Linked DNA regions of Homo sapiens: all the other regions are linked to region 2. The links come from fine-mapping of genetic effects on plasma protein levels. A gene starts in region 2. Each other region holds a variant in brackets. All regions are shown on one strand. Distances are from middle to middle.

Evidence for each region. PIP is the chance, under the fine-mapping model, that this variant and not a neighbour inherited with it causes the effect. Protein levels are from antibody-based Olink assays in UK Biobank. Linkage for the fine-mapping came from a reference panel and not from the study's own genotypes, which makes the PIPs less certain.
Region 1: its variant is fine-mapped to the plasma level of the PXN protein (UK Biobank, PIP above 0.99).
Region 3: its variant is fine-mapped to the plasma level of the PXN protein (UK Biobank, PIP above 0.99). The variant lies in the coding sequence of PXN. If it changes the protein, the assay may bind it differently, which can mimic a change of level.

The regions. Positions count from the first base shown.
Region 1 is chr12:120,129,913-120,139,499 of GRCh38, forward strand. GCN1 (GCN1 activator of EIF2AK4) reads right to left here. Exons shown (of 58, transcript NM_006836.2): 46 at 8,783-8,944; 47 at 8,411-8,503; 48 at 7,989-8,132; 49 at 7,633-7,902; 50 at 7,294-7,407; 51 at 6,590-6,820; 52 at 4,621-4,814; 53 at 4,379-4,493; 54 at 2,014-2,110; 55 at 1,273-1,421; 56 at 734-841. Among named protein-coding and RNA genes, the nearest start is that of RAB35-AS1, 18 kb to the left of the region's middle. RefSeq lists enhancers at 2,936-2,985, 3,196-3,395. The variant C/A (reference allele first, on the strand shown) is at 7,833.
Region 2 is chr12:120,261,649-120,271,299 of GRCh38, forward strand. PXN (paxillin) reads right to left here and starts at 4,082. Exons shown (of 15, transcript NM_001385981.1): 1 at 3,969-4,082. The coding sequence starts at 3,981. RefSeq lists silencers at 3,800-3,949, 4,110-4,389.
Region 3 is chr12:120,221,502-120,230,978 of GRCh38, forward strand. PXN (paxillin) reads right to left here. Exons shown (of 15, transcript NM_001385981.1): 2 at 2,650-2,876; 3 at 2,217-2,332; 4 at 1,362-1,498; 5 at 1,048-1,249; 6 at 122-257. It overlaps LOC124903034 (a long non-coding RNA gene), which reads left to right. Exons shown (of 3, transcript XR_007063487.1): 2 at 1-2,902; 3 at 2,979-3,920. Among named protein-coding and RNA genes, the nearest start is that of PXN-AS1, 25 kb to the left of the region's middle. RefSeq lists silencers at 3,387-3,436, 3,745-4,039, 6,993-7,102, 8,345-8,639 and enhancers at 3,554-4,235, 4,853-4,902, 4,919-5,599, 6,793-6,882, 7,951-8,510 and 1 more. The variant T/C (reference allele first, on the strand shown) is at 2,673.

The DNA of each region.
Region 1 (9,587 bases), 130 kb before region 2:
CATCTCTACACCTTCAGGATAATGCCAAGTGAACAAGCGGGTGCAGGCTGATGTCATCACAGACGAGGCTCAATCGAATCAGGCCCCTCAGAAACTCCGTGGGTTCCCGGTGCTGCGGGGGGAGGCAGTCACTCTTGGGAACCTCATTACTCAAGGCAAGGTCCATGCACAGCACCACTGACACTGTTGCTGAGAGCTGGTTAGAGTACCAGGCATGGCCCCATCTCACTAAAATACACCCTGGCTCTGACTTCTGTGCACAGTAATGCTTCAGAAGCACGCCATATCACACGGGCCACAGGAGCCCTGCTGGCACATTCCTTGGCTTTCCTAACTAGGGCCTGGCACATAGCACAGTAACCACACCAAGAAGTGCTGGGCCAACTAGAAGAGGAAGGAGGGAAAAGAGAGGTATTAAGATGGGAACCCAGGTCTGTATCTAATTTTACAAAACTACGGTGCCTAGAAAGAATGCCTAAAATAGCGATTCCTAACTTGATTCAGAGTCACGGGTCAATTTGAGAATCTGACAAAAAGTTAGGCTTTATTGCAGTGTAAAGCACACACAGAAACCCCCTACATTCCATCCCTAAGTGTTCAGCGATCTCCTGGAGGCCGTCCACGGAGAACTAGCACACAACTAGTTGAGGGCGCACTGCTGGTGGTCTCTGATCCTAGGACCTCCTCACAAGCCAGGTGTTAGGGCTTAAACACATGCTTGGCCCCCACTCACCTTAACGAACAGGCTGGAAAGTTTGGCCGGCAACTGCCCTCCGCCTGTCTCGATGTGGTGTCTCATGAGAAAGCCCATGCCCCGGACCCCGCTCACCGCAATGGGGATCTGTGGAGAACAGACAGCGCTAGACGGGAGGCCCCCCACCCCTTCCCCAGAGCCAGGAAAACCCCAGTTCCTAGTAATCTCCAGGACCCTCCACTACATCACCACCACATCACCCCTTACACCATGACAGCTCTCAGGCAGGCTGCCCCGGCTGAGGCAGATGAGTACAGTCACTGGTTCCCAGGAACAGGGATCCAAGACCTGACCCAGAAGGGGCATCTAGATTCTTCAACCCAAATTCCTTGTTTAGATGATGAAACTGGGGCCCAAAGGGATCAAGTGCTGGTCCAAGGGCACAGCAAGTTACTGACAAAGGTAAAATTAGACCCAAGCTTCTTAAGCCCCAGTCTGGGGTCCACCCGCGCTGTGTCCACAAGGTGCTGCCTATGGGATGTGGCCTATGCCTATGGGATATGGCCCGAATGCCTTACCCTGTCCGCCGTGGCACTGCTCAGGATCATTTCCTGAACATCACTGCTATATCTGCCGGCACAAAGTCTGCCAGGAGCCACATTCACAGCCACGGAAAGTGCCAGGCTCCGCCCGTGCCGAACCATCCAGTCAATGCCGGACACGTCCGCTGGGTGGAAGGACACGACTGGGATCAACCGGTATTTTACAGCATGTCCCCAGCACCCATGAGGCCCATGGGCCCACCCCGCTGGAGACCAGTGTGCTGACCCAGAGCACAAGGAAAACTCCAGGCCACATTCACATGGACCTCCCTGCTATCTTGGCAGAAGCTCCCCAAAGTGGCACATTAAGGAAAGTAAGGAAAGCCTGCTCATGAACCACTCCGGGCTTACAGCTGTGTTCTTTGAGCAGAGACACTCAGGGCTACGGGACCACTGCAAATTCAGTATTGTTTGTTTGTTTTAGAGACAGGGCCTCGCTCTGTCGCCCAGGCTAGAGTGCAGGGGCGTGATCAAGGCTCACTGCAACCTTCAACTCTTGGGCTCAACTGATCCTCCCACCTCAGCCTCCTGAGTAGCTGGGACTACAGGTGAGTGCCACCACCCCTGGCCTGGATTTTGCTTTAACTGCTGGATTCCCAAGGAAAGGACAGTCCAGTTGCTAAAAGATCCTCTGAGGGAGGGAGGGAGATGCCCGTCGACTCTTCGCTAGGGCTGAGAGGCCCAGGTCCCTGAAGGGGAACTCTCCAGTGTACTTACCCAGCAAGCACTGCTGTAGAACGGCACTAAGCTCCTCTTCAGTCAAAAAGGCACACAGTTCCCCTAGGCACCCGGCTGAGGAGATGCGAGTGTTGTCCTGACAGGGAAGAGAAGGGAGTGAGGGGGTGCAGGGAACAACACCAGCTGTGTGGGAACCAAGGCAGGCAGCTCTAGAGCCCAGGATGGACAGCAACAAAGAAGGTGGAAAAGCCAACTCAGAGACTCAAGATCCAGTCCTTCCTGTAGGCACTCGTGCTCCCCTGCCAGATTGGGCTGCCACTGGTATGGAGTTAAACATTACACAGCCAGCACTTCACTTAATTATAGAAAACCCCAGTGTGTATGCATATGGTAATCATCCTTGTAATAGCAGTAATAACTGTATTTACATAGCATCTTTCTTCTTAGGAAGGCTGAATGTTTCATATTTATTATCTCAATTACTATCAACAGCCCTGTGAGGCAGGGAGGGGCGGGAGGGGCAGGAGGGGAGGCACCTGCCCCCAGCCACCAGGGAAGCCGGCTAGAGACGGCCACTCTGAGCTCCTTTCTCCCACAGAGTTTGTGTCATCTTGTGGCCAGAATGACTCCTGCTATCTCCCTACTGCATGAGTGCCCCACTGCCACCGAAATTACTTGGGTTCATCCTAGGAAGTCAAACTAAAGCCACTAATCAAGCCAAGGAAGATAAGGAAAGGCAAGCACTTCCTGTTCAAATCAGAGCCAGGTACGCGAGCGGCTCCGTGCTCCTCCCTGGCCAGCTAACTATGGAATACCAAGAGAGGATTTTAAGTTATGTTCCTTATTACAGGTGCCAACTCAACATGTCCCCAAAACAAACCACCAACCAGGGACTCAATAACCCAAAAAGCTAATGCCAGGCTGGCACCCTGAACTGCCACCTTCAATCTGAGTGGAGGTTCAGAGGGTAAGAGAATGGACTGCCAGCAGTTTGGGCCTCTGAGCTCGAAGCAGAAGCCCAGGTGCCAAGCTAAAGCTGGCTCTGACACCGACTCTCTCCAACTTCATCTATTTTAAGCTGCACTGTGGTAAAATGCAAATATGTTTCAATACTAACTTTTGCTTGCACTGTACACATGACTCTGTAGAAGCCCTGAAAGACTGTGACCAAGACAGCAGACTTTCCTGTCTGTCCCCACAGAGAAGGCTGGGGCTGGAGTCCGACAGCTGGCGCCTGGGGACCAGAACTAGGCCTTTGGAGCCATGGGAAGTGCAGCAGCAAGTGTGTGTGTTGCAGGTGTGGGCAGGAGGAGTGTGTGTGGGTGTGTGTGTGTGTCAATGACGTGTAAAACCATGTGAGCCCAAAGGCCCTCTCCTCCTAGATTGGCCCTACAAAGTAAATTAGACCACAACAGAGGGCTGTCTGAAAAGGGAACAGAAAACTCTTCTCCATAGACTCAACTCCCTACTGGCCCCACAGTGCTCGCAGCCAAATATTTGACAGATGCTTCCAGACTAGGTGAGGCTGATGGAACTGGGACAGAACCAGGAGTCCAGGGCTTCTGGTTTGGACTCTACTACTTGCTGGGTATGGCCCAGACAAGTCTCACCCTCGAAAATAGACCTCTAAGACTTGCCACCGGGACACACCCTGGAGACCATTTATCCCACTACACACTAAGTTTCTTGAGGTCTGTGACCACGAGGTCTATGCACCTCTGGGATAGGCCCTTTAGCTCGGCAAATGTTTCACAAAACAATAAATAAACCTCTTCATTTTACAAAAGTGGAAATGAGAGGCAGACAGAGAAAGTGACTTCTTTAAGATCAGAGAGCAAATAGGTGAGAGGTCTGGGTCTCTACAAAGCTTACTTGCCTCATCTATAAAATAGAAATAACCGGCCGGGCGCGGTGGCTCATGCCTGTTAATCCCAGCACTTTCGGAGCCCGAGGCGGGTGGATCACCTGAGGTCAGGAGTTTGAGACCAGACTGACCAACATGGTGAAACCCTATCTCTACTAAAAGTACAAGTATTAGCTGGGTATGGTGGCGGACACCTGTAATCCCAGCTACTCGGGAGACCGAGGCAGGAGAATCGCTTGATAGGAGGCGGAGGCTGCAGTGAGCCGAGATTGTGCCACTTCACTCCGGCCTGGGTGACACAGCAAGACTCAGCCAAAAAACAAACAAACAAACGGAAATAACCAATATATCCACAATACCTGCCCCGTTTCCCTTGAAACCCGAGGAAATGTTGGTGAAGCATACAGGGTGATAGAAATGTCAGGAATGCTTATTACTACTGAGCTGTACTGGTTCTAACACAAAGTGAAGAACTCAACCTAAGGAGGAGGAGGGAAACCAGTGGTCCAGTGCTGCCACTAGTCCTGCCTGCAGCCGTACCTCATCGTGTCCCAGCATGCTCAGCAGGAGTGAGACGATGTTTTTCCGGATGACGGCATCCACTTTGGCCCCTGCTCCCTGAATCACAAACCTCAGGGCCTGCAGCATGGTGTCCCTGCAGAAGCAATGCACCGCCTTAAGCCCTGGGTGCCTCCACCACCACCCCTCCTGCCAGCGCAGGCTCGGCCCACAGCAACCCCTGGCCTCCTGGAGGCCACAGTGCTCCCTTGCCAGCGCCGTACCTGACACCTGGGTCCTCCATGGCGCGGATGCCATTGAGCAGCTCTGTGAAGAGGGGGTCCACCTTAATGTGGATGGAAATGAGCTTCCCCAGAGCATCTGCGGCCTTCAGGCGCACCCCCCGGTTGGAGTCCTGCAGGGCTTTGGTGAAAGTGGTCTGCAGCTGGGGCAGGAAGGGCTTCAGGGCAATCCCAACCTGTGGGAGGAACCCACATCCATGAAAGACAGTTGTGGTAGACCCAAAGCCACAGTGTACCACAGGCATGAGAACAAATGACAATCCCAAACCACCACAGCGAGTCCAGCTCTCATACAGGGCTGGGGACAGATAGCCCGTCAGAGAGGCCAAACACAGACAGGTTTCGCTTGGCCTCCTGGTCATATCCAGCATGCTTTGATACACTGGAGGAGCAGGAGGCCGAGGAGGCGGCGGCCGCTATCTGAGGGAGCTGTCTCGCAGCCTTGGCTGCGTTGGGGTTTGGCTTAGTGGAGACCTGTCCATATCGATAAGTGACTCAAATCCTCCTCTGAATACATTAACAAGCAGGGCAGACTATCGGCAGTACTGAAGCACAGTTCTAATGCCAAGACAGGGAAAGGGACTCAGTGTATAATTGCAGAGCCCATCTACTGAGCAACTGACAGCAGGATACGCACTCCACATTCAGCCCTCAGAACAAGCCTGTGAAACAAATGACCTTGGAGAATCCTCCCTGCACAAATGTGTACCCACCTAACTAAAAATCCAGTTCAACCCCTGACTATACAGAAACACAGGCACACTTTTGATACAATACAGGTGGGTCCAAGAGTAAAGATTTACTTACTGTTTTTTGTTTTGTTTTTTTTTTGAGACGGAGTTTCGCTCTTGTTGCCCAGGCTGGAGTGCAAGGCGCGATCTCAGCTCACTGCAACCTCCGCCTCCCGGGTTTAAGCAATTCTCCTGCCTCAGCCTCCTGAGTAGCTGGGATTACAGGCACCCGCCACAATGCCCGGCTAATTTTGTATTTTCAGTAGAGACAGGGTTTCTCCATGTTGGTCAGGCTGGTCTCGAACTCCCGACCTCAGGTAATCTGCCCACCTCGGCCTCCCAAAGTGCTGGGATTACAGGCTTGAGCCACCACGCCCGGCTTACTTATTGTTAATTAGGAAAACCAGAGTGACTGTTTGGAGGTTCAGTGCCAATGAAGGTCTGGAAATACTGGAGTTGGGTGGGTGTGCAGGCTGTGGCAGGCACACAAAGGGGATAGGGGGAGCTGGTAAATCTGAGCTGTGCGAGGTCAGGAGTTCGAGACCAGCCTGGTGAAACCCTGTCTCTACTAAAAATACAAAAAAATTAGCCAGGTGTAGTGGCAGACACCTGTAATCCCAGCTACTTGGGAGGCTGAGGCAGAAGAATTGCTTGAACCCAGGAGGCGGAGGTTGCAGTGAGCCGAGATCGCGCCACTGCACTCCAGCTCTGGGTGACAGAGTTAGACTCTGTCTCAAAAACAAAACAAAACAAAACAAAAAACAAAAAAAAACAAAAACTGCAATATCTTTAAACAATGTTTTCCTTGTATTTACGTGGTCCTGAATTTTTTCCTTTGAAAAAGTAGTTTTTCAAAATAATAGCATTTCACATGTACTGAGTGCTTAGTATGTAGCAGGCATCATGCTGGACATAACCTCATCTAATCCCCATATCTAGCAGCCCTTCATGAGGCAGCTGGTATTATTAGTCTCACATTGTAGGTGAGGAAACAGGCTTAGGTTATATGGCTTTCCCAAGGTCATCCTGGTCACAGAGCTAGTAAGGACGACTTGGAATTGACCCATGGTGTAGCATGTCTGAAGTCCAAGGTCTTACCTCCCTCTGCTATGCGGCTCTCCACAATAAATCTGTTGCCCTGCTGCTACATGACACCTTGTATCAGGCTCCTGCAGACAGACCTGTTCTCTAAGATCTGAACAAACTCATCAGCCACTCACCTTAGCCAACAAGAGGCTGAGTGTCTCGAGCAGAGCCGCCTTCACATTCCAGCTGAACCTGTCCCCCAGGATGCGGATCAGAGGGCCAGTGATGCTGACCACGGAGGGCCTCAGGGCGTCAGCCGAGGTCAGGCGGATTACCAAGCCTAAGGCTTTGGCTGCCTCCTCCTTCTGCTCAGGGCTGCCAGTCAGGACTCCTTCCCGCAACACTGGAAGGATGGAGGTCACTCCCTGACAAGAGAACCACAACTGAGAGTCAAATCTCAAACACCCTGGGCCCTGGTGTCTCCCATGCAAGCAAAGTGGTCCTGACAGCTGTCCTCCCCTCAACTCCATGGGAGATATTGATTTGGGCTGAATCTCAGGATCACAGCCTGAGAGGGCTGGCTATGGAACGGTCTTGGCAGAGAAAAGACGACAAGGGCCCCAACAGGCCTATCACACAGAGAGAACATGCACTGCTGTTACCCTGTGGCCCACTCACTCTGGCCAAGGTGACCTGCAGAGCTTAAACCAAAGGCAGCATGAACCCTGTCCCCATCTGACTGCCATGGAAGAAAACATGCTGTCTGCGAAGGTGCTGAACACCAACCACCACGGCTACTGCTCCAGCAGCCCCTACCGCAGACCTGGGACAGGGGTAAGGGCCAGAAGGGCACAACAGACTGCACGCCCACAGCCCCCTGCACGAGGCCCTGGCTTACCTTCTTCGGGAGGCAGAATCCTGGCACATGCTCGCCTTTGCTCTCGTTCCCTATGAGCCGGATTTCCTTGTGCAGCTCTTCAATGAGTGCCAACTGGTTGCCAGCATCCAGCTTCTGCAGGAATCCAGGAAAAAGCGAGAGGATGTACAGCCCTCTCAAGACTGCTTCCAAAGAATATATGGGGAAAGCGTGGGCGGGAGTATAAACAAGACTTGCCACGAGTGGGTAAACGCCGAAGCTGAGTGACAGGTACGTGGGGGATTCTTATAAGTCTATTCCTGTAAATGTCTGGAATTTTCTAAAAGCAAAAGTTGGCTGTGGGGTCAGCAGTCCCCTCACCTTAGTGATGGCATTTAGGGCATCCCAGCTCTCCTCCAGAACCACAGGGCTGGAGTCATTGAAGAGGCGGATCAGGCCCGAGACCAGGCTCCGCAGGTGGCTGGTGTAGTCAGCCTTTGAGCGGGAACAGTAGATGTTGAGGATGATGGCAGCAGCTTGCCTCATGCCCACCTCAGGGCTGCGGGTGGCCTCCAGCAGAT[C/A]CTCGATGATGATCCGGTGCCCTGTGTCATCCTCTACGGAGAGGATCACAGCCTGACAATTGGCCATCTCCTGCAAACCACAAGGGACATGTGTGCTGAGCAGGGATCCTCCGGGCAGACGGGACATGAGAAAGCAGGAGCAGGCTCGCCCCTTACCAGCTGCTCATCTGGGGTCCCAAGCTTTTCCTTCAGGGCCAGCATGACCGCTGGGAGGATCACGCCAAGATGACGGGTGAGGGCATCACCAGCCACTGACGAAAGGAAAGCCAGCACCCGGGTGTTGACAGGTGGCGTTGTCAGCTGGTGGAATGACAAACATTAACTCAGTGAATACTGTGCCAGGTGCTGCGCTAGGCTCTGGGAACAGACGGGTGGGCAAGAGAGCCCAAGCCCACTGCTCAGAGCCAAGCATCTACTCCAGCATATCTTGGAAGACAACAGGGGAAGGATGTAATGCTTGCACTGCACCCTCCTCCCCCAGCCCTCCAACATCTACGTTCAGAACTGGTCTTCACTGCAGGCCCTGGAAATGTCAATGCCCTGGAGCCAGAGGGTGTTGACCACATGTTGGGATTTACCTTGGGCACAAGGTAGGGCAGCACCACACGACTCTTAATAGCCATGACTTGCTTCAGACCATCCAAGGCAAACTCTGACACCTCCTCGTCATCCTGCAGAGGGTGTTGGGGACAACCCTGAGGAATCTGCATCTCTGCTGTCTCAACCAGCCACCGCCAACTTCCTTCTCCACTTGTTTCCCTCCCTCCTGTTGCACCCACATTTCCTCACTGCCGAAGGCGAAGCACAAAGCCAAGTCTGATCTTGCTATACCCACTCCCTCTGGAGGGCCCACATTGCGACTGCCTTGGCAGAATAATCGCCCTGTATTTTCCATCTACAAAGACGGCAAAAGCCAAACTGGTAGGTAGGTGTGTGGTAGATCCACTCACCAGCTGCTTTAGTAAAAATGGGAGAATGTCCTCCAGAGCCTGGTGGCCGATGGTGGAATGCAGCTGCTCGAAAGTCTTGGCTGCCGCCTCTCTGACCTCCTCCAGTGGGTCACACAAAGCCTTCCTTGCCGTGGGCACGAGGGATTCAGAGAAATACAGCACCTGCAATGGCAAGCTACAACTGTACCAGATGCAGGAAAGGCAAAGAAGGAGCAGAAGCAGACAAGAAGCACAGGCAGGGGACTCTGACCCAGCTAGGCCACCCTAACTCTCTTTGCCTGACTTGTCTTTTAACTTAACTCTTTACTGTGAAATAAAAAAAAGGAGAGAAGGGGCCGGGCACGGTGGCTCACACCTGTAATCCCAGCACTTTGGGAGGCCAAGGTGGGCGGATGACTTGAGGCCAGGAGTTCGAGACCAGCCTGGTCAACATGGCAAAACCCTATCTCTACTAAAAATACAAAAATTAGCTGGGTGTGGTGGTGCACACCTGTAATCCCAGCTACACAGGAGGCTGAGGCACAAGAATCGCTTGAACCCAGGAAGCAGAGGCTGTAGCCAAAAGAGATGGTGCCCCTGTACTCCTGCCTGGGCAGCAGAGTGAGATTGTCTTAAACTAAAAATTTTAAAAAAATTAAAAAGTAGAGAGGGGCCGCGCACAGTGGCTCACGCCTGTAATCCCAACACTTTGGGAGGTGGAGGCAAGAGAATCACTTGAGGCCAGGAGTTTGAGACCAGCCTGGGCAACATAGTGAGACCTCACCTCTACTAAAAATGCAAAAATTAGCTACGTGTGGTGGTGCAC
Region 2 (9,651 bases):
GGCTGCTCAGTGGCCCACCAATAACTCTGGCCTTCCATCAGCCTCTCCAGCCAAGGGTACACCCAGTCTCTTCAATGCATGACCATCACTAGGGAAGCTGGAAAAAAGGAATACTGAGATATTCCCTCAAAAGACCTTGAACCTATAGTGACAGGGCTTTGGGTTCCAGTAGGCTGAGCATTTCTCCATCAAGCTATGTCTGCCCAGGCAGCAGACAGCTTCACATATCAGAAAGTGTACCCGCTGAAGAATCAAACCCACCAAGGTTTGAATCCCAGCTCTGCCCCTTACTAGCACAAGCCCAGGAGAAGGTCTGGCACTGATGCAGAGCCCACCAGGAGGGCACTATCGCTGCATGGGTAAATGCCGCCTCTGCCACACGCCCAGCAGCTGGGTGCCCTGACTCTGCCCTAACACACAGAGGGACCACAGACAGGAAAGCCCAAAGTCCAGACTTTCCATGGAAACAGGGAGGCTCCATAGCTCCCAATGCCCCAGGCAACTCCTCTGCCCCCCTAGCACTACCCCCAAGGACAATGAGGCACTGTTTTCCAAAGGGTCAAGACTGCTGAGAAGCTGAAAGAAGACATGTCCAGATTCCAGCAGCAACTGGGCACTGCCAACAGCTGGCTGTTCCCCCTGCTAGAGGATGGGAAGGCAAAGCTACCCAGTCTTGCACTGGACACACCCTTTGCCATTTCCTGGGATGGGCCCCTAGGGCAGAGATTGTTAAAGGTAACTATCAATTACTCAGCAGGCCCCAAGGCTCATCCCCCTGGTTAGTCACCAGCACCTACCACCTTATGATGATTAAGATAACCGGATCTGGAATTGGATGAGCCTGGGTTCAAATCCCAGCACTACCACTAAACTTCCCTGAGCTCAGGTTTCCACATGTATAAAGTGGAGCGAAAACACCTCCCTTTCTGAAAGGTTGTGATACAGCTCGTAAAGTGCTGAGTACAGTGCCTGTCTCCCATGAAGCGCACATGATCATGATTAGACCACAGTTGTGGTCAAAGCCCCCACCAAGTACACTGAGAACATGAACAGAGGAAGAGCAAGCAATCGGGTTAGAAAACACAGTCAGAGTGCATCTCAGTGTTGTGGGAACTCTGTCCAGGAAACTCCGGCCAGAACTTGAACAGAGCGAACTCTGGGCCAAACCAGCATCTAAACAGTAATAAGAAAAGCCACCAAGCAGCCACCCCAAAGAACAAAGTGGAGAGAACACACAGGGAAGGGCAGAACACGCTGTGTTGATATTTTTCTGCTCAGAGAGCTATAAATTTGTAACTTATTAAGCAGCACATGGTGAGTCTGTCATTGGCAACTATGGGAAGGAGAAGAGTTCCCCATTTTTTATTAGACCAAAAAACAAAGTCACAGAGGAGGTGATGCACCCTCTGGCCTTGCTACCGGACACACCATAAACTCTCCCCTGTGTTAGGGACCAGGAGGCACACGGCTGAGAGCACGCTCAGGAGAAAAATAAAAACAAGAGGTCTGGGCTTTGTGTCCACCCTAAGGAAAACAGCTGAGCCACCCTAAGGAAAACAGCTGATGGCAGTGTGCTGAGCCGCCATCCAGACAGCTGACGGGGCCCCAGTGCAAAGGCAAATTCCTCTCCCCTCCTGCACACCCCATTCCTCCCACCCCAGGCTCCGGTCAGTCAGGCGTGGCTTGCCCCTTGGGAGCTCAGGCCAAGGAAGTCGGGCAGCCCGGATGTAAGCAACTGGGAGTCTATGGTAGAAAGCAGTAGAAGTTACAGGTGATCGCCATCACCCAGTGGCAACCCCTCCTTCAAGTGCCCTTGCCTCCTCCCCAGGAAAAAAAGTCTTCTCGGTATACAAGAGCCACAGATCTGGGAGCTAGGAATTGGGCTTCCAGTTATGGTTTTGTCATTTCATGGCTGTGCAGCCTTGGGCAAGAGAATCAGCCTCTCTTCGTCTCGGCTTTCTCAATCTGTAAAAAGGCAGGTGGTCATGACAGCATTGGCTTTAAGGTGGAATCTGATAAAAGGGTTGTTGTGAGGATATCACAAATCGAGGTAGAGGGAAGTACTCCACAAACAGCAATTTAAATCCCTACAATCCCCTCTCCCGTATACAGTACTCTCTTTCCTTTCAGAACTCAGTTTCCTGGCCCTAAATGGAAGACTGTCAGAAGACAGGAATTCCAGATTTCGATGGCGAGCTCTACAAAGACTTTCTCAGTCCTTGAAACAGCACGGGGACTGCCGAGAAGCAACAGAACTGCACCAGCACTTTAGAAACTGTAACTTTGCTCCCAGTTCCCACTGGGAAAGCACTCAGACTCTTAGATCCTGGTTCAAAGAACATCCCCCAGCCTCCTTCCAGCTGAGCTATTTTTATGTGAAAAAAAAAAATACCTGCCTGGAAGCCATGCCAACCTTGAGCACACTGGAAAAATGGGTGCCAAGCCTGACCCAAAGGCAGAACCACGCTTGGCAGCCATCTCACTCTGCAAAACAGGCAGGACCCTACACCAACCCCAGCTCCAGGATCTCAGGGGCACCCTGATCCCAAAAGGAAGCTGGAGGGAAGCAGTCAAGTCCAGCACCTACAAATAGCCAGTCTTAACTTAGTGCCCGGCGCTGCTTGGTAGAGGTCCATCAGTCCTGTCTGCTGAATCTACTCCTCAGAGCCTGGGACAGAGGAAGCATCAGTGGTCACACAAGCCACCCACAGTCCAGAGAGGAAAGACAAGGCTCCTGCAGAGAAGAAACGTTGCCCCCCTCCTCACCTCCCAAGCTCAGGGCCCTCCAGCTACAGGCGTGAAGGGGAGGGAGAGACAGCGAATCCTCCCACTCCTGCGTTCACGCCACCCAAGGCATTCCTAGAACCCTGGCACCAACCCCCTTGGGTTTAGAGTCGGCTTCCAGGAGATACTTTCTTTCCCCTAACACCAGATCAAGACTGGACTGAAAAGAGTAGCCTTGGGGCTCCAATAACAGGAAAACAGTAAAACTCTGTTCTGGGCATCCTGTCCTCTTTCACCTGCGTGGCTTCCAGCAGGGCCTGACGCAGAGAGGGTGGAGGGGACTCTGCTAGCCAGGACACGTTCAGGGATGGTCATACCTTGGGGCCCACCTTCCACCTCATTCCCCTGGCATTTCACCAGAATCTAGGGGTGGGGAGAGAATCAGGACTCCCAAATTACCGTTCTAGACTTAGATACCATGGTAGACGGACTGGTCTGTGAATTGAGGGGCTGGTCCACAGAGCGGGGAGGTCAGTGAGAGAAAATGAGTGATGGGTCCTTGAAACGGGGTGACCAGATTTGAAGTGGGGGGTCAGAAGAGCAGGCAGACTGGGAAACTTGTCTTTGAAATGGGGGTGTGGTCATCACACGCTCATCTCTAGCTTTTGCATCTGACTTGTGAAATGAAAGGGGTGGGCTCCGAGGGGTTATCCCTGAAGGGGGGTGCTAGTCTGTGAAGTGGGGGGCGGCCCTGGAGGGACGGGGAGCAGGTCGAGGAAATGAGGGAGCAGCCCATGAGATCGGGCAGCTGCTCCCCGAGTTGGGCGGTCGATCTGTGAGGTGGGGGTGGGGAGAGGTCTGCGAGGTGAGGGTCCCGTAGCTGACGAGGTGGTCTGCCGCAGGAAGTCTCGTCCCTGCAGCGGACGGGGTGGGTCCCTGAGGGGCGGGCTGGTCCCTGGGGCCCTTCTGGGAGATGGTGATGGGTCCCCGAGGTCGGGGGTCCAGAGGTGAAGCCGTCCCAGACGGGGGGTCGCTGCTGTGCGGTCGGTGCCGGGGCCGGCCTGGCCCGAGACTAAGGCCCGGTTAGGGATCCCAGCCCCGCGGAGCCCCGGCCGGCAGGGACAGGAGCTGAGGCCGGGGCCGCCGAGGGTGGGATCCCGCGGCCCCTGCCGCTCGCTGGCGCCCTCCTGGCCCCAAGCTGCGCGCCTCTCGCCTCCTCCTCCCTCGGCCTCCCGCTCACTCACCGAGGTCGTCCATGGCCGGACCACGGGCGCCGGCTCAGGGTCGCGCTAGCTGCCCGTCCCGGGGCCGCTCGTCTATGCCCCGCAACTTTTCCGCCGCGAGCCTCGGCCCGGAACGGAACGCGCCGCCGCCGCGCGCGCCCGCGCCCGCGCCCGCCGCGCGCCCCGCCCCCGGCCGCCCCCTGTGCACGCGCGCCCCGCCCCCGGACACCCCCGCGAGCTTGCTGGCCCCGCCCCCTGCGCACGCTGGTCCCGCCCCCGCCAAGAGCCCGGGCAGTGGGCGTCGCTGGGCGGGGCGGTGGCGCCCCCTCGCGGCTAAGCGGGCAGGTGGGCGGCTCCCAGGCCTCCAGCCACTCCCATCCATCTTTCTGTCCCTCTCAAAGTCACTTGCCTGACCCTGCGGATGACAAATCCGTCCACAGTCAGCCATGTGTCTGTGCATTCGTCAGCCACTGGGTCATCACATGCCTGTCCACTGGACAGTCAGTTTTGCCCACCTGTCCGTCTGTCACCTGTAGGTCACCACCCAGGAGGACCATAAATCAGTACCAGGCAAGGCCCGGAGCCCGTGGCTGACCTTTCCTGGGGTCGTCCTCTGGATCAATGGCAGTGCAGCTCGCAGTTCACCCTTTCTGGCCCAAACCCAATACCTGTGTGGTTCCATCTCTCTTAATATTACTTCCACACAGCCACCCTCCCTAGACACTTTTCCAAAACTGCATGGGGCAGAGGGGTCCCCAGATTAGACATTAAAGGGAAAACTACAGGAAAGTCACACCCAGTGCTCCCACACACTCGGAAATTGGGTAATAATAACAACTACCATTTATTGAGTGTCTGAATAGACAGACACTATATAGCTATTCTCTAAATTAATCCTCCTAGAGGTACTTCCCTACCCGTTGGGATGGGTGATGGCAGTTTGTGGATTTTATATAAAACTGCTCTGCAAGTACAGCTTCGAGTTCCCCTTGTCCCTCAAGAATCCAGGCCTTCTGGGTCAGATCAGGTCCTCCAGAAAGCAGATGAGATGCTGAGATAAAGCTAGGGGTAATGCCCGTGACAGAGAAGGGGAAATAAGCAGGGTTGGGCAAGGAGACTCAGATCTGACAAACAGGTCAACCCATCAGGGAATTCCAGGACAAAAAAAATGAGAAGTCTCCTTGGGCAGAAGTATCCGGGTTCCAATGCTCCCACCATGTTCAGTCATTTTATAAAGGCAGATCCAAGCAGCTTCTGTGGCTGCCACATTCTCCTATAATAAATTCAAGACCAAAGACTGTTCCTCAAACACTCTATTGCGTGGTTTTCCAGCATCTTGCACATACCTCTATTTTGTTTTAGTTTTTGTGTTTTTGTTTTTGTTTGAGATGGAGTCCCAATCTGTCGCCCAGGTTGGAGTGCAGTGGTGCAATCTCAGCTCACTGCAACCTCCGCCTCCCAGGTTCAAGTGATTCTCCTGCCTCCTGCTGGGATTACAGGCGCATACCACCATGCCTGGCTAATTTTTGTATTTTTAGTAGAGATGGGGTTTCACCATGTTGGCCAGGCTGGTCTTGAACTCCTGATCTCAGGTGATCTCCTGCCTCCTGGTGGGATTACAGGCGTGTACTACCATGCCTGGCTAATTTTTGTATTTTTAGTAGAGACAGGGTTTCACCATGTTGGCCAGGCTGGTCTTGAACTCCTGACTTCAGGTGATCCGCCCCCCTCAGCCTCCCAAAGTGCTGGGATTACAGGTGTGAGCCACCACGCCCAGCCTGTTTTTGTGTTTTTAAGACACAGTCTTGCTTTGTTGCGTAGGCTGGGATGATGAATAAGACTAACATGATGTCTACCTTCTTGAATCTAAAGGTGCACGCAAAAGAGCAAAGTGGTTAGCATGAAGGATGAGTAGCCTCGCCCCACTCCCAGCTGTGTGGAACAGCATGTGCAAAGGTCTGTAGACAAGACATTTAATACTGACCACAAGCCTAGGAGATGAGCATTGTTAGCCCCTTTTACAGCTGGAAGAGTTGAGAGTCAGAGGTTGAATTACTCCAGGTCATACAGCTAATAAGTAAGGAAACTGAGATTTGAACCTGGGGAGGCTTATGCCAAGGCCTGGTTATGAAACGGCTAAGTGAAACTGCTAACAACTTAGACCAACCCCAGGGCATACGCTTGTCCACTTCTCCAAAGGTCTAAAACCTTTCTTTTTCAAAGCTGTGTGGTCTGGAAATGCGAGGCACCCATTGAATGGGCAAGTTTCCCATTGCTATGCAGAGTTCTAAAGAGAACTGAAGCTTCAGAGTTGAGTGCTGGTGCACTCGAACACTCAGGTCCCTGCCAGGGATTTCCTCATGTAAATCATTCCTAAACCCCCATTTCCTCCCTGGCTTCCTTCTTCCCTTGGACTCTCACCCCACAGCAATTAAACTTGGTGTCTAGTTCAGGCTGCTACAACAAAATACTGTAGACCGAGTGACTTATAAACAACAGAAATTATTTTTTCACAGTTTTGGAGGCTGAAAGTTCAAGATCAGGGTGCCAGCACAGTCAGGTTCTGGTGAGGGCCCTCTTCTGGGTTGCAGACTGTTGACTTTTTGTACCCTCACACGGCTCAAAGAGGGTCCCTTTAATAAAGGCACTAACTAATCTCTTTCATGAGGGCCCTGCCCTCATGACCTAATCACCTGTCAGGCCTCACCTCCTAACACTATCGAATTGAGATTAGATTTCAACATATGAATTTTCAAGGATATGAACATTCAGTCCCTTGCATTTGATAAAATCAATCAGGTTTTTTCATTCTTCCTAAAGATTAAACGACATTGACAGAGCAGATGGACAACCCTGCTGACTTCTTGCTAGTGGTTCATCTTGGGCAATTTACTCTGTGCCTCAGTTTCTTCCCCTATAGAAAGGTTAATAGTAGCTACCTCTCAGAGTCCTCATAGGACTAAATAAGAAACGACACACCTAGTACTTAGAATGGTCCTTGTCACCACAAAATAACACTCTTCACTCAGCAATAGAAACAGAACTCGACCAGGCTCACACCTGTAATCCCAGCACTTTGGAAGGCCAAGGCGGGCGGATCACTTGAGGTCAGGAGTTCGAGACCAGCCTGGCCGACATGGCGAAACACCATCTCTACTAAAAATATATAAATTAGCTGGGCATAGTGGTGTGCACCGGTAATTCCAGCTGCTCAGGAGGCTGAGGCAGGAGAATCACCTGAACCCAGGAGACGGAGGTTGCAGTGAGTCGAGACTGTGCCACTGCACTCCTGCCTGCGCGACAGAGTGAGACTCTGTCAAAAAAAAAAACAAAGAAAGAAAGAAGGAAGGAAGGAAGAAAGGAAGGAAGGAAGGATGGAAGGAAGGAAGGAAGGAAAGAAAGAGAGAGAAAAGAAACAGAATGCAAGCCGGATATGCAATCAAAACTTTTCTTTTTTTTCTTTCTTTTTTTTGAGACAGAGTCTCACTCTGTCGCCCAGGGTGGAGTGCAGCGGCATGATCTCAGCTCACTGCAACCTCTGCCTCCCGGGTTCAAGTGATTCTCCTGCCTCAGCCTCCTGAGTAGCTAGGATTACAGGCACCCGCTATCACACCCGACTAATTTTTGTTTTTGTTTTTTTTTTTTTTTTTGAGACGGAGTCTTGCTCTGTCGCCCAGGCTGGAGTGCGGTGGCGCGATCTCGGCTCACTGCACGCTCTGCCTCCCAGGTTCATGCCATTCTCCTGCCTCAGCCTCCCAAGTAGCTGGGACTACAGGCGCCCGCCACCACGCCCAGCTAATTTTTTCTATTTTTAGTAGAGACGGGGTTTCACCGTGTTAGCTAGGATGGTCTCGATCTCCTGACCTCGTGATCCGCCCATCTCGGCCTCTCAAAGTGCTGGGATTACAGGCGTGAGCCACCGCGCCTGGCCAATTTTTGCATTTCTTTAAGTAGAGATGGGGTTTCACCATGTGGGCCAGGCTGGTCTTGAACTCCTGACCTCAGGTGATCCCACCTGCCTCACCTCCCAAAGTGCTGGGATTGCATGTGTGAGCCGCCGCGCCCGGCCCAATCAAAACTTTTTTAGCCAAGTGCAATGGCATATGCCTGTAGTCCCACCTACATGGGATACTGAGGCAGGAGGATTGCTTGAGTTTAGGAGTTTGAGTCCAAACTGGGAAACTAGCAAGACCTCCTCTCTAAAAAATATCTTTAAAAAAATAAAAGAAACAGGCCAGGCACGGTGGCTCATGCCTGTAATCCCAGCACTTTGGGAGGCCAAGATGGGTGGATTACCTCAGGTCAAGAGTTTGAGACCAGCCTGACCAACATGGTGAAACCCCATCTCTACTAAATATACAAAATTAGCTAGGTGTGGTGGCACATGCCTGTAATCCCAGCTACTTGGGAGGCTGAGTCAGGAGAATCGCTTGAACCCGGGAGGCGGAAGTTGCAGTGGGCCAAGATCCAGCCTGGCTTACAAGAGCAGAACTCCATCTCAAAAAATAAAAAATAAAAAAATATATGGCCGGGCACGGCGGCTCATGCCTGTAATCCCAGCACTTTAGGAGGCCGAGGTGAGCAAACAACCTGAGGTCAGGAGTTCAAGACCAGCCTGGCTAACAGCCTGGTCTACTAAAAACACAAAAATTAGCCGGGCATGGTGGTGGGCACCTATAATCTCAGCTACTCCAGAGGCTGAGGCAGGAGAATCGCTTGAACCTGGGAGGTGGAGTTTGCAGTGAGCCAAGATCACACCACTGCACTCCAGCCTGGGGGACAGAGTGAGACTCCATCTCAAAATAAATAAATAAAATAGATAAAATTAATGTTAATAATATATTTTATTTAATTCAATATATCCTCAGTGTTGGCTGGGCATGGTGGCTCACACCTGTAATCCCAGCACTTTGGGAGGCCAAGGCGGGAGGATCACAAGGTCAGGAGATCAAGACCATCCTGGCCATGGTGAAACCCCATCTCTACTAAAAATACAAAAATTAGCTGGTGGCACGTGCCTGTAATCCCAGCTACTCGGGAGGCTGAGGCAGGAGACTCACTTGAACCAGGGAGTCAGAGGTTGCAGTGAGCTGAGATCCCACCACTGCACTCTAGCCTGGCGACAGAGCAAGATTCTGTCTCAAAAAAAAAAAAAAAAATCCTAAATGTTATCATTTCAACTTGTAATCAATATAACAAAATATCAGTGAGATATCTTACTCTTTTTTGTATGAAGTCTTCAAGATCCAATGTGTATTTTACACTTACAGCACATCTCAATCCAAATAGCCACATTTCTTTTCTTTTCTTTTTTTTTTTTTTGAGACAGGGTCTCACTCTGTTGTCCATGCCGGAGTAGAGTGGTGAGACTGAGGCTCACTGCAGCCTCAATCTCCCAGGCTTAAGTGATCCTCCCATCTCTGTCTCCTGGGTAACTGGGACTACAGGCACATGTCACCGCACCTGGCTAATATTTTTTATTTTTAGTAGAGATGAGATTTTGCCATGTTGCCCAGGCTGGTCTTGAACTCCTGGGCTCAAGCCATCTGCCCACCTCTACCTCCCAAAGTGTTGGGATTACAGTCATGAGCCACTGCATCCGGCCCAGCTAGCCACATTTTAAGTACTCAGTAGTCACATGTGGCTAGCGGCTACTGCATTGAACGGTACAGTTTTAAATGTCAGCTGTCATCATTATTTTGGT
Region 3 (9,477 bases), 40 kb before region 2:
GCTCAGGGGCAAGGCACCCAAACACTGAGATGCCAAGATCCAGCTACCCACACTGAGGTAAGGGAGGAGAAGGATGAGGGAGGGGCGGCAGGGCAGGGAAGATGGAGGGTTCACAGGGCACCTTGAAATCCGACAGCGAAGCCATCAGCTCGTCCAGCTCCCTGGTGGCAGAGGAGGCCGAGATGCGTGTCTGCTGTTGGGTGGAGGTGACGCGCTGCGGGCTGCTCATCTCGCCCTGGTTCACAGTGATGGCAGGGCTGCAGGGTGGGCACAGCATCAGTGGGGAGCCCACAGTCAGCCCCACACTTCCCGGGGATCAGATCGACCTCTCACCTCGGACACTGGGGTCTCACCATCCCCAACCCCAGGGAGGTCCACCAGCTCCCTGTCTCTCCTGGGGACCCATCACTGGGTCAGAAGAAAGGGCAGTTCAATGGCACCAGGAAGTGCCAGGAAGACTCCTCTAGCCCCCAGCCCAAGTGAAAGCTGGCCTGCGAAACAAGCCCAAGCGCCCTGTGTTTCCTCCACAACACTGGACATGGAGGTGAGGCTACTGCAGTAACACGACGGCACTGGTAAGAGCTCGCGTGTTGGGCACTCACCATGTGTGCCACGCACTACACACCAGAAACCATTCCAAGCGCTTTACATGGATTACTGGTTCTCACCCTTACTGAGGTAGGTGGTCTTATCCCAGTGATCCCATAAGTTCTTGTCCCATTTTACAGATGGGAAAACTAAGGCTTGAGAGCTGACAGTAACTGTCAGAGCCAAGATGTGAACCCCACTGTGTGGCCCCAAAGCCTGTGCTAAGAGCTGCTAAGCTCCAGGCGCCCTCAGCCTGCACAACGTCTGTCCTTTCTGACTGGCAGTGACTGGCTGAAGGCAGGGATGGTGTCCATGTGACTCACCACTATCCCCCCAGTGCCTGGCAAATGGCAGACACGGGAGGGAGTGGGTGATACCAGGGCTAAGGGGACAGACACTGGACCCGGGGCAGGCTGGGCCAGCCCTTCCCCACCTGGGGAGGGCCCAGTGGGTACTCACACGGGGCTGGGCACGGAGCTCTCCAGTTCATCCAAGAGACTCTCCACACTGGGCCGCACGTCCTCCAGGCCCCGGCCCCCATTCCGCTTAGGCTTCTCTTTCGTCAGGGGCCCAGCTTTGCCTCCCAAGGGGCTGTTAGTCTCTGGGACACCATAGAGGGGGCTCAGGGCCCCAGGAAGCGGGGGGCTTGAGTTGGCCTCATCTTGCAGAGAGGAGAGAAAAAGGCTGCTCAGCCCTTGAGCCCTCCTGGGATCTAGAGGTCAGCAGATGGGCCCTGGGCCCTGGTAGACCCTGCCCCAGGGACCCGGTCCTACCTGCAGGGAAGCCTGGCGGGTTATGCTGTACAGCGTTCAGTTCCAGCAGCAGGCGGTCGAGTTCAGAAAGGTTGCTGCCCAGGGACGTGCTCATTACGGTGGGTGAAGGCTCAGCTGATTTCTGCTTGTTGGGGAAGCTTTGAGAGGCAAAGGAAAGAAGATAGTGAGAGATGCTTTCTGGCCTTGTACTGGCTTGGCAGTTCCCAGATTCCCAAGGAGAACAAGGCAGAGGAGATGCGAAGTCTTCCCCCGCAAGAGGACAGAGGGTAGGGAAGGGATGTGGTAAGAAGAGGGGAGGAGGCCGGGCACAGTGGCTCACGCCTGTAATCCCAGCACTTTGGGAGGCTGAGGCGGGCAGATCATGAGGTCAGGAGATTGAGACCATCCTGGCTAACACGGTGAAACCCCGTCTCTACTAAAAATTAGCCAGGCGTGGTGGTGGGTGCCTGTAGTCCCAGCTACTTGGGAGGCTGAGGCAGGAGAATGGCGTGAACCCAGGAGGCGGAGCTTGCAGTGAGCCGAGATCGCGCGACTGCACTCCAGCCTGGGCGACAGAGTGACAGAGCGAGACCCCGTCTCAAAAAAAAAGAAAAAAAGAAGAGGGGAGGAATGAAGTCTTGCTTCAGTTCCTCAGCTACACGGAGATGCTGTGATAGCCCAGAATGTCCACTGCATGGAGATGGCACTGATGAGGTAGACGGGCCCACCGACAGGCCTTCTGCAGCTTAAACCAGAATAACCCCACAAGGCCCAGTTGCTATGCCTGCTCCCGGGCCTCCGCTGCCTCCCACCCTGGCCAGGTCCCTGAGATTTCTAAGCAGGAGGGAAGGTGCCCTGGGCAGACTGGGGCAGTACCTGTAGACGTGCTCCTCCTCACCCACTCGGGAGCACGGAGAGCCAACACTGTCCTGAGGGTTGGAGACACTGGAAGTTTTGGCACTGGAGCCGTACACAGGTGATGAGGACTGAGGCTGCGAGAAGGAGAATGCTCAGAGGCTACCCCGAGGGGAGAAAAAGGAACAGGGGCCAGGAGCAGCTCCAGTCACCCCCAGGAGGCTCCTGCCCACAGCCAGTCTCACCAGGGAATTTCCACAGTTGGGCCAGGAAACCTGTGATTAACCACTTGGTCACTGTTCCACTCACGTGGTGAGTGGGAAGAGCAGTGTCTGGTTGGGAAGGGTCGACTGCCCCAATTCCATTCCATCCCCTGGCTCCCTAAGCCCCTGCCAGCTAAGTTCCCTCTGTCCCCCAGCCTCCTTGGCCTTCCCAGCCACTGTCCCCGCCTCACCTGCTGGTGGATGAATCGGGAGC[T/C]GCTGGGCTGCCACTGGTCTAAGGGGTCAAGGATTGTGCCATTGAGGGCCTCGCTGGACGGGGGTGGGGGGACGGGGGGTGGCACGGCAATCTCCTGGTATGTGTGGTTTCCAGTTGGGTATGAGTAGGGGGTCTCCTCCGACAAGAACACAGGCCGTTTGGAGATGTGGGAGGTGGTAGACTCCAAGTCCGCCAGCAGGGCGTCTGCAAAGAGAAGGCACGGGTAGCAGGTGAGAACCGGGATCCTGGGGACTCTCCCGTGGCAGGGCCCTCCCTGCCTGCACCTCAAGAGTTAATGCCTTCTAGCACCTGCCCCACCCATGGGAGAAATGACCAGCCTTGGGACAGGAAGCCACCAGCCCCGACCAGCCTAACCAAGAGCCGGCTCCCAAAGCTAACTTCTTCTGGCCACCCAGGACTGAAAGTGCTCTAGAGGCGGGCTCTGGGGCTGCCCTGTGGGATCTCCTACCTCTGGGAGTCAGGCACCTGGCACTGCGTTCCCTCCTGACAGGGCCGCGCAGCCGCGAGTGAAGTGCCTGTCTGGAACTCTGAATCTGCAGGGCAACGCGGAGAGAATGGGCGGGAGGGGCCCCACGTCACAGGGAGGGGCCCTGGCTATGCCAGGCCCTCACTTGATTTCTAAGAGCTTAGGCTTTCCCAGCCCCCGACTGGAAGGGGCACTCAGGATGGTCCCTGCCCTCCTAACCAGGTGGAAGCAGAAGCCCAGGCTCCAGGTTCCTCCTGAGGCTCTAGGCTTATGGGGTAAGGTGTGCGGGGAGGTGGGGGCTGGAGTGAGGCTGGTGCAGCGGTCCCCACCCCCTCAGTGAGCAGGGGGCAAGACTGCTCCATTGGCTGTTTCTGCGGAAGTCTGGCAAGCAGCCCGGCCCCAGAGGCTCCAGGCCCCCACTGTTCTGCTTTTAACAGCGGCAAGGGAGCCAAATCAGCCCTCTAGTGTAAGCTTCCATTACCCTGGCACCTGGCAGCCAACAGGGGGGCACTAGGTCTCCCCAGTCTCCAGAAAAGAAGGGTATAGAAGGGCAGGAGTAGGACCTGCTGACCCCCACTTCCTCCATCCCCTCCTGGGACCCTCAACAGCCCCACGGCTCAGACAGCCTGGCCCTGGATGCCACACCCTCATTCCTGCCCCGTTCACAACTTGCTTGCTCTCAGCTCCCCGGTAACCTGCTGGGTCCAGGGAGCTGACAGCTTGATCCCTAGCCCTCAGGATAATAAACATCTAAAAAGCAATGGCTGCGTTTATTGCCACTTATCAGTAGCAGGCAGACTGCTAGGCATTCTAGCAGCATGTACGAGGTCTCCGTTAATCCCCCTAATACCCCCTGTAGCTGGAAATGATTCTCCCCGAAGCGATGAGGAAAGCCGGGCTTGGAGAGGCAGAGGTCAGAGGTGTTTGCTCCAAATAACAAAGCCAGTGAGTGGCACAATTGTCTGACTCCTCAGAAGCCCCAAACCCCAAAAACCTGGCCTGTAAGAGGCCACTATGACTACCAGATGATGCCATACTTAAAGGGTTCAACTTCCTGAATGTTGGAGGCCCAAGCTGTGAGGCCTGCCAGTGTGATCCTTCCTTGTGGCCTTGCTCCCAGTCCCCCAACCTGTGTTCAGAGGAGGGAATAGAGAAGCAAGGCCCTCACCCAGGGCCTCGGTCTATGGGGCCACACCTTGTCCCAGCTGCCTGTCCTGATCTCCTACCCTCAAGGCTGGCCACACCTACCCCATGCTCCTGCCCAGATGGACAGAGGGGATGTCTGTTCCAAGGCCCAGGACCCCGGGTCTGGTCGCCTGACCTCCAAGGAAGTTCAGGTCCTACAGCCCGCCCCGCCCTCCGGGTCCCATGGAGGAGGCCTGGCTTCCTGTCTCTAGCAAACCGGAACTAGAGGGAGTTGGTAGGTATCTAGGTAACGGCAGAAAAGGAACCAGTGTCCAGGCCAATCCCCACGGCCTCTCCAGGGCCACACCTGCTGTCTTGGCTTCACGCAGTGTCCTCATTTCCTCTGGGCCCAATCAGCAATGGGTGGATCCCTCTTTCTCCACCATGGGCAGGGCCAGCTAAGAAACCCCATAGGACTCCCCAGAGCAGGCAACGAATGAGTGCAACCCCAGTAGGGGGCAGGAGCAGCTGCCATCCTTGAAGGCCCACTGGGGCCAGGAGCTTCACCTTTGTTACCTGCCATCCTCACAACGCCACCAGCACAGATGGTATAACTGCGGTTCAGAGGCAGAGTCACATCCCACACTGCCAAGGCTGGATGAAGTGACAATGCTGGACTCTGATCTCAGGTCTCTTGGACTCCAAACACCCAACAGAAGACAAATGGTCAGGCTTCCTTGTCAAACATTTTGAATCAGGGACTCCACCAAACACCCGCTCCACCACAATGTGATTCTAAGCCTGGGCTTTTGGTTTATGGATTGGATTCAGGTTTACAATGTCAACAGGCTCTTGGGAGCACAGATCCCTAGGCTGGTGAAGTATTGGTGAGAGGATGCAGTCCTGGGGCACAGAGACACAAGATCACTCATTCTGAGGTCGAGCCAGACCTGAGTTCAAGTGCCAGCTCCCCTCTCTACCATCCATGCCACAGGGCAAATCGCTTAGCTTCTCAGGGCCTGTTGTCTCAGTAAGCTCTTGAATAACTCTGACCTCAAAGTACTGGTGTGAGGTTTATAAGGGCTAGCAGGTACACTGGAAGCTGCAGACATCAGTTGCAAATATCAGGCTCTCCAGACCCAAGTCACTCTGCAGGAGGAAGCTCCATAGCACATTGGAAGCTACAAACATCAGATCTGATTTGCTCTGTAAAATCCAGAATAAGGTCTTCCTCCAAGGAGAGCAGTGTAGGTAGGATGCAAAGTACTAACTTCTTCTAAGTCTCCTAAGTCTTTTCTGGGTAGAATATGAGCAAACCATGAAAAGGGCAACCTTGAAAAGAAAAGAAAAGTAATAAAGTAACATTCAAATTGTAGCATGTCCCAGCCTGGGCAAAACAGTGAGAGCCTGTCTCTACAAAAAATTTAAAAATTAGCTGGGTGTGGTGGCGCATGCCTATAGTCCCAGCTATTCAGGAGGCTGAGGTGGGAGGATCACTTGAGAACAGGAGTTGGAGATCGGCTTGGGCAACACAGTGAAACCCCATCTCTACAAAAAATTTAAAAATTAGCTGGGTGTGGTGATATGCGCCTGTAGTCCCAATTACTCAGGAGGCTGAGGCAGGAGGATTGCTTGAGCCCAGGAGGTCAAGACTACAGTGAGCTACAATTGCACCACTGCACTCTAGCCGGGGTGACAGAGCAAGACCCTGTCTTAAAAACAAACGAACAAATCATAGAGTGCAGATGTCAGGGAGAAGGCACATCATTATTCAGTTTTCTCCAAAGTTTTGTCTATTTGAGGGACAGAGAAAAACCCCAGCAAGTCCATCCACCAGCCACAGGGTCTCTGGTATGGCTTCCTCCTCTCTCTCCACCCTTCATTCTCACCTAGTGATTTGGACAGGCAAGGACTAGGCAAGAGGGGTAGGGGTTGGTGCCTCCAAACCCCCCACAAACTCCTCAAGAAAGAAAACCAGAAATACAGGAGGCAAGCCAACAGTAGACTCCTAGCTTTACTTTGATTTCCAATGGGTGCAAATACCTGAGACTTCCCCATAGGCTGCAAAATGGTTAAGGGTCAGAGTCCCCTTGCAAGCTCAGCAAACGTCCCCCCTGGCTTGAGCAAACAGAGCTGGCAGACACTGCACACAGGAAGGAGTCCACTTGAAGGCAGAGCCCCATCCCAGCGGGGTCCCCCAGTGTCCGGCTCCAGCCTTTCCCTCTGCTCTAAATATTCCTGCTCCTCATACCCCAAAGAAGGTGTCAGGCTATCCACTCTTCAGAGAAAATGGTACCCACTGAAACCATTCAAGACCAGGAATACACCCTCCCTTCCCACATGCTGGGAGGACAGATTCCAGACACGCTGCTCGGAAGTAGTCGGGAGACCTCATTCAAGCTAAGAAAGGCCTCAAATTTCCTTGGCATTACTCTACTAAGTTTCCAGGTCCAGGCCTGGGGCCCTCCAGACCCAAGTCACCCTGAAGGAGGAAGCTCTCTCTCTGGGGCTTCCCAACCACTTTCTGGAGGAAACCCACCCTGAATTCTGCAGGTTTTCTGTCTCTCTGGGCCAGCGGAAGTATGCAACATGAGGAGGTAGGCCAGGCTGTCTCGAGGCTGAGGGCAGGCTAGGTGCAAAGTCCCCAGCGAGCCATGGGCAAAGGCCACGGAGCTATGTCCTGGCTCCGCCCTGGTGAGGAAGGGGTGCAGACTGTCTGCTGCTCCCCACCAGAGGGCACCATTGGCCCGTCAGCTTCTTGCCACTGGGTAACCTCGTGCAATCTTGCAATTTTCTAGCCGGGGAAGACTGGGGAGCCCCTGGCCATGGGCGCAGTGGGGAAGTTTCTATCCTTAGAGAACAAGGCTGAGCTGGAGGAACACAGCAAGCTAGTGGGAGGAACACAGGTAGCCTGGTATCACTTGAAGGCACAACCCAAGGGTGACATGCAGGGCTCTGGAGAACCAGAGGGGTGCACGCCCTCGCTTCCAGGGCCCTGTGCAAATGCAGCACCGTGTGCGCCCCTATCTGCACCCCATGGCTGCACCTGGTCGGAGCAACAGCATGGAACAGCTGCAGCTTTGGGTCGGGAGGCCGCCCTGGGGCAGGTGGCTGGGCAGAAACAGTGCACTACGGCCAGGCTGAGAGGAAGAAGCCCTTCCCTGGGCCTCAGCAACTGACTGAGCGTAATCCTTACAACCGGTGGGAGCCGCTGGAGGGTTAAGGTACAGACACCCTCAGCCCACTGCTCCGAGGAGGAGGGGACCGGTTCGCCTGCATTCCAGGGCAAGTGCTGCAGCTGCATCCCTCACATTCCTGTACCCACCTAGGGGCTCCGGGTGGAAGGAAACCTGGGTCCCCTTGTACCTACAATGGGGGGATGTCCCCCAGACTGTGGCTCTGGGGACCCCGGTTGATCCACTGACGCATGGCACTCAATATCAGATTAAAGAGAATCAATTAAAACCTTCCGCCCCCACCCCCGACTGCAGCACAGAAACAAGCCAGGCTGCTTCCTCCTACCTAAGCCCCTGCCACTTCTTAGTGTGTGATAAAGACTATCAAGACCAGAGGCCTGGAGCTGGACAGGTGCCAAGAGAGAGGAGATAAAAGTCCATCTCTCTGAGGGGGTGGGAGGACCCAGAGCGATTCCATTCTCTCCTCCCAGGCTCTGAGGACTTTCAGTGTTACAACTTGTACGGTGAATCCTCAGTCACCTGGGCTCTGCTCAATGGCTGAACTGCTCGGATAGGCTGCTTAACTGCTTTTGTGCCTCAGTTTCCTTGTCTGCCCAATAGGAATTCCACCATTTTACTCACAGGATTGGGACTACATGAGAAAAAGATATAAAGTGCTGACTTAGCACAGTGCCTGGAATACAGCACACAGGAAATGGGAGTTGCTAAATAGATTACAAGCTTCTTCCCAGGGAGGTGTTAAGCCCTAGGAGGGGAAAGAAATCACCTCCCCGTCCTATCCAATCCCTGAGGGCAAAGGGTGCTGCCCTCTAGTCCCAGATCAGCAGGAAGCAGGTAAATGTGGGGCATGGAGCCAGCTTTTCCATCCCTTCTTGGAGTTTACAGGCTGCCCTGCCACACCAGCCCCAGCGCCAGGGCCCCGTGGTCCCTGCCCACCTTTGCCATTCTGGACTCCTCCACCAGCAGCCCCAGGCAGAACTAGAAGAGGTATAGTCCTGTGGCCCTCAGGCAGCGCCCCACCTTAGCACGCCTTGCATTCTCGAGGCCTGGCCCAGGAGAGGCCCACGTAAGAACAAGGTATTTTCCAGCCCCTTCACCCACCTTCTTCTGCAGGCCAATTTCACTCAGCTTTCATTGCCCCAGGCAGGGAGCGGCCAGTGCAGCTTCCTTAGGAGCTGACAAGCCAAAGGAAGGAGCAGCAAGCACCGCCCTGAAAGCTCCAGCACCAGCAGCAACGGGCTGCCATAGCACAGGGGCCTTCCCCGCAGCCCTGGGCCAGCTGTCCATCCCTGCCATCTGATAGGAAACCCAGACTCCCAGAGAAACAAGTCCCTGTCCTAGGGGGTCTGGGGATGCCCAGCCTCATGGCCTGTCTATCCTGTTGGGTCCAGAACTCTGGACAAGGGAGGTTCCCAACCCCCTGATGACCACCTGGGCAGCCTTGGTAGCTCTGAGTGTCAGAGAAGCTGCGGCCTCCTTACAGTTGCCCACGCTCAGGGATATAAGCAGTGAGCAGGGCTTGGCCCTTCCTAAGGAAGGAGCTATGTAAACAGCAGGACCAGCTCAGGGATGGTCTCATCTCAGCCCCTTTGGTGAGACTCTTCCAGATTAGGAAGGAAAACAGAACGGGAAGGCGGGTCTCCCCCCTCCCCCTGGCTCCAAGTTCCCCTCCCCTCCCCCAGCCCAGAGCACATGAGCAGTTAGAGCAGAGGTAATCTAATCCGCAGCGGGGTGCTTTCACTCGGTGAGTAAGTCCCCAGGAATGGTGAGCTGGGTATATTTATCCTGATAACCGTCTGTCCTCAGTAAGGGCCAATCCACAATTAGGCCAGATCCACTCTGCCCCACCCACCCCCAGCCCAGGGACCTAGGGCCTGGACACTGACTAGGAACTCAGTCTCCTTGAGGGGCCTTCCCTGCCAATTTGGGTTCTTGTCAACTGTCTCCTCTCCAAGAATTAAGCTCCAGAGAGCAGGGGCCTTGTCGGTCTTGTTCG